Linked DNA regions of Homo sapiens. The protein of the gene in region 1 interacts with the protein of each later gene in a pairwise test. Each region holds a gene or a part of one and is shown in the gene's direction. Other genes may lie near its edges.

Region 1 (3,833 bases):
TTCTAATACTACACTTTGTACACACATATATTTTAATACTTATTAGCTAGTTGTGTATGCATTAGACTTTGTGACAGCCTGGCTCATTGAGAAAACACTGACTATGGAGCTAGAACAACCTGGCTTCAAGTCCTGATTCTGTCCTTTACTAGTTTTATGATCATAAGCATATTATTTAATCTTTTTGAGCCTCAATCCTCATCTTGTTATTGTGGCCAATACTACCTGTCTTATAAGATTGCAATGAAGTTTAAAGCATCATGTGTAAAGAGGCCAGCCCTCTCTGGTAGTGTCTAATAACTACTTCTTTAATTAAAAAGACTTGGATTCTGCCACTCCTTTGACATTGTACCTTCTTTTCCTGGAATGTTAGCTGGCTGAATCAGGAAGACTTGATCAAGCTGATTACTAAAAATGTCATTAATTTTTTTATTTGTTATGTAACTAGGGTTTTAATCAGCTTGCAGTACTGACTTAGATTTTTTTTGCAGTCTCTAAGATATTGCTTTTTTAAATGTTATTTTCCACACACTTAGAACCTTGAGAGATTTGTGTTTTCAGAGACACATGAAATATCTTTTTGATTGTATTTTTTATTTTTATGTTTTTAACAGTAGGTTAATATTTTTCAACCTTTTCTTCATTATCCTCCCCCCAAGCTGCCTGTTTAGACATTTCTTCCTAATTACCTCTACCCATGAAATTTTAATTCCACAAATACAGTATATCTGTTTATGTGTAGTACTGTATGTGTATCTATACTTTATACTTAATAGAGTAAAATTTTGTTACCCTTCTCCACAAAGAACCAATTTTCACCCCCTTGGAATGATATCACCCTTGTCAAGAATGCATGCATCAGACCTTTTAGACATGATTTGATGGAACAGATTAATGGTTCAGTGCTTGGGTTCTAGATGGATAACTCTGAGAATGAATTCTGCTTGCTCTGTTGATTAGCTGTGTGACCTTTTGTCATTCTCCTTAGCTTTCTAAAGCTTCTCTTCTTCATCTGTAAAATGGGAATACTACTATTATCATCCTCATAAGGTTGTGCAGTACATTTAGCATATATTAATTGCTCAACATATATTAGCTATTACTTTATCATCTTAATAATCACAACTTTAATTTTGTTCATTGGAACTTAAGACCTGAGTGTTAAGGGGTATCTACCTGTTCTCTTTATCCATTTTTTAAATACTGACTGCTGAAAATGTAAGCAATGTTGGTAACATAAGATACCTACAGAACTCCTTAATAAAGAAAAGCTAATCAGAAAGAAAATTCCTTAGTGTACAAATAATTACATGTAGAGTATTAAAATGAATTTACACAATAGCTTGAACCATAGGTTATTATTTTATTAAGTAATTCTGGGTTCTGTTTTTAGATATTTGATTTAATGGATGCCAAAGCACGTGCTGATTGCATCAAAGAAATAGATCTTCTTAAGGTAATTAATGAACTGTTGACTCTTTTGAACATAACATGGTGATAAAAGTGATTTACTAAAATATCACACTTAAACACAAAAAGGTTTTTAAGACTTATGCTACACTGATTTCAAGTAATATTATATAAGGTTAAATTTCAGTATACTGAAGAATGTAGTTATTTTTTGGATTTATTGTTAAATAACATAATCAGAACATTTGTAGGACCAGCTTTTTTTTCTCATTTCAAAGTAGGAAATAGATAAAATGGGCATAAAACATTGAAGAATTTTTTTTTCTTGACCACCCCAACAAGACATATTCTAAAGGTTAAGTAATATAAATGCAAATTAGCATTATCTCAACATGTATTATATTGAGAATGTGGACTAATCAAAATGGTTCACATGCATTTTCTAATGTTTCAATACTTTTTCCAGACTTAGACAGAGTGCATGTAAAGAGTATGCCAGGAATTAGCTTTTTAGTTTCTCATCTACTAAGAATATGACTGAGATTTCAGTTATTTCTGCACTGCTTCTTTTATAGTGAAGTTTCTTTTGAGAAATACTGCGGCCTATGTTGTATTTTTAACTTTTAGTTAAGACTTCGCTCTTTTTTTATGCCATCCGTTTGTGTTAGTGCCTAAAATGAACCAGATTTATGCAAAAAGGAAGAAAGTAAGGTCAAAACAATGTTTTCTGACTATTCTGTTAGTTGTAGTTATTTCTTGGCACATGAAGTAGCTGGCTTAAATATATGTAAACTTTTACTGTGGAAATAGCATGTCATCATAGAAAATTTGCAGCGAAAACTTTAAGTAGAAAGAAGAAAGTCACCCATACTTTCTGCATAATTTCTCAGAGAAACAATTCATCTTGTATTAATATGTTTAAAGATTGAACAAAAGGATTGCAAATGAGTAGGGACTGATACGTATATTTCTACAAGGTAAAATTTTTCTTAGGGATGATTTTATGAATTGGCTCACATGAATAAGTCCTGTATGTTATTTGATATAAAAGCAATAGTTAGATATAGTATAGTAGGTACCAGCTGTGTTTTGTCTACTAGCTGGAGTTATTCTAGGACCAACCATAACTTCCAAGTAGGAGTAAAAAGGGATACTTTATTTATCATTGAGTGTTCCTAAATGAAAGTTCTCATTTTGAGGATGTAATTTTTAGCAGTTGGCGACCTAATTCTATCATTTACTTCTTGCATCTGTTGATATGCTTATTGGGCATAGCAGTACTTTTAAATTAAGATTTAAACGTAAAATATATTCTTTCTAATAAAGAATATTAAGATAAATTAATTTATACCTAGTTTTACTTTTAATAATTGTAATATTTGTTTCACAATTCACTAAAGAAAAGTATACTGTCATGTTAAGATTTCTGTAATTTAAAAAATACGGTGAAGTTTGTTCTTAAGTACAAAACTATAAGTGACTCTTGGATATTTACAGTAAGAAAACTTTCTGATGCCTGTTTTATTTTCTCAGCAACTCAACCATCCAAATGTAATAAAATATTATGCATCATTCATTGAAGATAATGAACTAAACATAGTTTTGGAACTAGCAGATGCTGGCGACCTATCCAGAATGATCAAGGTAAGTTTTGAAAAAATTGTCTTAATGTTTTGTTTTGTTTTTTTTTCTAATAGAATTGTCTGTTAAACACATAGGGATATTAGATATTTTAAACTAAAGACCTCAATGCAAAGCTTATCTGATAGATATGTAACAAATAGTAGATGGTTAGTGATCATAATTCTGAAACTGGTTTACTTGGTGATGTTTACACTGATCAGCTTAAATATCTAAACACCCCAAAACCAACTTGGAAAGAGGCCAAGATACTTGTCTTCTGTAAGTTGAGTTAAAGTTTTGCTGTTTGATTCTCTGAGCAGACCATGCTTGATCCTGTGTCTCTGGACATGAGTAAAAGGAGGTAGAAAGAGACTCTAGAGCAGCTTGACCTGTTTCTTGGGGGGGAATCCATCAAAGAAAGTGGGATTTGCAGTCAGACCTTGGATATCAACCCCACATAAAAGTTGTTTAACCTTCTTTTCTAAGGGCATATTAATTCATAATTAATATAATTAAGTTGTTTAACCTTCTTTTCTAAGGGCATATTAATTGGGTTTAAGTTCAGCTGCAATTAATAGAAACCCTTAAATAATAGTAGCTTAAAAACTGTTTGTCCTTGGGCCAGTTACTTCTCTGTGTCACATTTTCTAAAAAACACAGTAATAATAGAACCTACTTTATAGGATTGTTGTAATGATTGAATTAATTAGTATTTATTAAGAGCTTAGAAGAATGCCTCACACATTGTAAGGCTATGTAAATGTATCTGCTGCTGCTATTATTATTGTTATTGTTATTAT
Region 2 (3,833 bases), on another chromosome or scaffold:
TGATGGATATTGGGCTATGATTTTCTCTTAATGCCTTCATGAAGTTATAGTATTGGAATTATGCTTATAAAACAAGCTGAGAAGTACTCTTTGCCCCTCAGTTTTCTGAATAATTTTGTTGCATAAGATTAGCATAGTTTGGTTTGTTAAATGTCTACTAGAGTTCACCATGAAGCCAGCGGAGCCTGGAGTTTTCTTTCTGAAAATTTTAAATAAGAGTTTTAATTTTTAAAGATTTCATTGATATACTAATATCTCTATTATCTATCTATGTATCTCCCTTTAGTATATTGTATTAGGCAGAATAGCATCCCTCCCAAAATTCTCCATGGCCTAACCCTGTAACGTGTGAATAGGTTACATTTTGTAACAGAATGGACTCCGCAGGTATAATTAATATTATAAACTTTCAAATAGGGAGATTAACCTGCATTATCAGGTTGGTCCAATCTAATTACAATACCTCTTAAAAGTAGAGAACTTTCTCTCATTGAATTTAGAGTGTTGTGGCAGAAGTCAGTTTCAAAACATGAAAAGAATTGTTGGGGTGAAGATGAAGAAGGCTGTGTGTCAAGGAAGCAGGGACCTCAGTCCTACAACCACCAGCAACTGGATTATGCTGACAATCTGAATGAGTTTGGAAGTGGAATCTTTCCTAGACTGTCCAGATCAAAGGCCAGTCCAGCCAACACATTGATTTTAGCTGGGTGGACCTGAGCAAAGTGAGCAGAGGACCTAGCTGAGATTTCTGGCTCAGAAAACAATAAGTGGGTGTGGTTTTAAATATCCATTATAGCTGCAATCGAAAACTAAATATGCATATAAAAATTTTTCTATTTCATTGTGAGTCAGTTTTGGTAAATTGTGTTTTTCACTTCATTTTTCCAATTTATTAACACAAAGTTGTTAAAAACATTTTTAATACCTTTTAAATATCTCTAGGATCTGTAGTGATATCCCCTTTCTTTCCTAATACTGATCATCTGAGGTTTCTCCGTCTCTCTCATGCCAGTCTTACTAAATGTTTATATCAGTATTAATGTCAACTTTTACCTTTGTTAATTTTATTTAGTTTGTATTTTATTGATTTTAGCTGTTGTTTTAAAAACTATATTTGTGTTTCTTATACTTACTTAGTAGAAGCTTTTCTTTATTTAGATTCTTAAGGTATAAATTTGGTTCACTTATTTATTTATTTATTTATTTATTTTGAAGGCAGAGTCTCACTCTGTTGCCCAGGCTGGAGTGCAGTGGCTGGATCTCAGCTCATTGCAATCTCTACCTCCTGGGTTCAAGCGATTCTCCTGCCTCAGCCTCCTGAGTAGCTGGGAACACAGGCGCCCACCACCACACCCAGCTAATTTTTGCATTTTTCGTAGAGACATAGGGTTTCACCATGTTGGCCAGGCTGGTCTTGAACTCCTGGCCTCAAGTGATCCACCTGCTTCAGCCTCCCAAAGTGCTGGGATTACAGGTGTGAGCCACTGTGCCTGTCAGGTCACTGATTTTAAATATTTCTTTTCTGCTAATAAATATAAGCACTAGAAATCATAAATTTCCCTCTAAGTACTGCTTAAGCTGGCAAGCACAAATTTCTGAATGTAGTATTTACATTACATTTTATTTCAAACTATTTGGCACTTATGATGTTTTTGTTTAATCCATGGGTTTAAAAGTATATTTAATTTCCAAATACTTGGGTATTTTTACAGATATTTTATTGATACTGATGACTAGTTAAATTCTATTGCTACTATGGAAGATATTCTTTAAGATTTTAATTTTCTAAAATTGTTGACTTGTTTTTAGTTCAGCATGTGGACTGACTTTATGAACATTCCATGTGTGCTTGTGTGTGCTGTAGTTGTGCAGTGTAGTAGTCTCTAAATATCATTAGGGTTATGGCATTGTGTGGTGTTGCTAAGACCTTTAATATCCTTATCGATTTTTGGTCTATTTATACTATCAATTACTGTTAAAGAGGTTTTCAAATCTCCAGCTATTATTGTCAATTTGCCTACTTATCCTTTTAGTTCTTTTGAGTTTTTTCATATATTTTGATACTCTGTTATTAGGTATACACACATAATTTTAAATGTGTCTGCCTGAGTAATTTTTCCTTTTATATTATGAAATGTCCCACTTTATCTCCAGCAATACTCCTTGTCTTAAAGTCTATATTGTCTGATATTAATAGAGAATGCAGACACTCTTGCCTTCTTAATAGTATTTTCATAGTATATATATATATATATATATAATTTTATTTATTTTCAACTTATATGTGTCTCTATATTTAAAGTGTGAATCTTGTGGTCAGTATAGAGTTGGGCTTTTCATTTTTTTCCAGTTTGAAAAATCACTGCCTTTTTCTTGGTCCATTTTCATATATTACAATTATCAGTATGATTGAATTTAAGTCTACCATTTTGTTTTTTTAATTTATTCTGTTTCTTTTTCTTTCTCTGTTTCGTTTTTATATTCTTTTTTGCTTAATTACATATTTTTAGGTATTTCAATTCCTGTATTGGCTTTTCTTTTCTTTTTCTATTTTTTTTTTTTTTTTCGAGATGGAGTTTTGCACTTGTTGCGCAGGCTGGAGTGCAGTGGCACGATCTCGGCTCACTGCAACCTCTGCCTCCCGGGTTCAAGCGATTCTCCTGCCTCAGCTTTCTGAGTAGCTGAAATTACAGGCATGTGCAACCACACCCAGCTAATTTTTGTATTTTTAGTAGAGACAGGGTTTCACCATGTTGGCCACACCCATCTCGAACTCCTGACCTCAGGTGATCCACCTGCGTCGGCCTCCTAAAGTGCTGGGATTACAGGCGTGAGCCACTGCACCCAGCCCTCTATGTTGGCTTTTCAACTGTGTATCTTTGTGTATTTTTGGTGTTTATCCTACGGATTACAATATGCATATTTAACTTATTATACAGTCTACTTAGAGTTAATATTATATTACTTCTCATAAAATATAGTAATTTTGCTATGATATAATTTCATTTACCTCATTCTTTGTGAAATTGTTGTCATATGTTACATCTATATTTGTTATAAATCTCCAATAAAGTTTTATAATTTTAGCTTTCAATAGCAATCTGTATTTTTTTAATTAAGAGAAGAAAAAATGTATATTTATTTGTGTTTGTCTTTCACCTATGTACCATTTCTGGTACATAGTTTCTATCTGGTATCATTTTTCTTCAGCCTGAACAACCTCGATTAGCATTTCCTGTAGGATAGATCTGCTGGCAATTCATTCTCTTAGTTTTTGTTCATCTGATAATGGTTTTTTAAAATTTTGCCTTCATTTTTGAATAAGAGTTTTGCCTGCATATAAAATTTCTTGTTGATTTTTTCAGCAATTTAAATATGCTGTTTCGTTGTCTGCTGATCTCCTTTATAATGTGAGTTCAGCTGTTCTTCATATTATTGTGCCCTTGTATGTAATGTCATTTTTTTCATCTGACTGTTTTCAAGATTTTCTGTTTAACTTTGAGTTTAAACAATTTGACTATAATGTGCCTAGATGTCGTTTTATTTATATTTAGTCAGATTGGCGAATTGGATAAGCTTCTCAGATACATAAGTTTATATTTTTCCCTAATTGGAAATATATTTAGCCATTACATCTTTAAGTATTTTTTCATCCAATTATTCTCTTCTTTTTCCTTTTGATATTGCCAATTACATGTATGTTAGAATTCTAATATCATCCCACAACTAACTGAGGCTCGGTTCATTAAAAAATTTTTCCTTTATATTTGTCAGATTGTATGATTTCTATTGATTTATTTTAAGTTCAATGACTTTTTCTTGTGTCATCTTCA

Evidence for each region.
Region 2: the proteins of NEK7 (region 1) and RAB3C interact in binary tests that used the Homo sapiens proteins (3 or more experiments, as listed by UniProt).

Annotation. Positions count from the first base shown.
Region 1 is NC_000001.11:198,261,182-198,265,014, forward strand, and holds part of NEK7 (serine/threonine-protein kinase Nek7), read left to right. Parts: intron 1-1,393; coding exon 1,394-1,456; intron 1,457-2,943; coding exon 2,944-3,054; intron 3,055-3,833. UniProt on the Homo sapiens protein: Protein kinase which plays an important role in mitotic cell cycle progression. Required for microtubule nucleation activity of the centrosome, robust mitotic spindle formation and cytokinesis.
Region 2 is NC_000005.10:58,589,349-58,593,181, forward strand, and holds part of RAB3C (ras-related protein Rab-3C), read left to right. Parts: intron 1-3,833.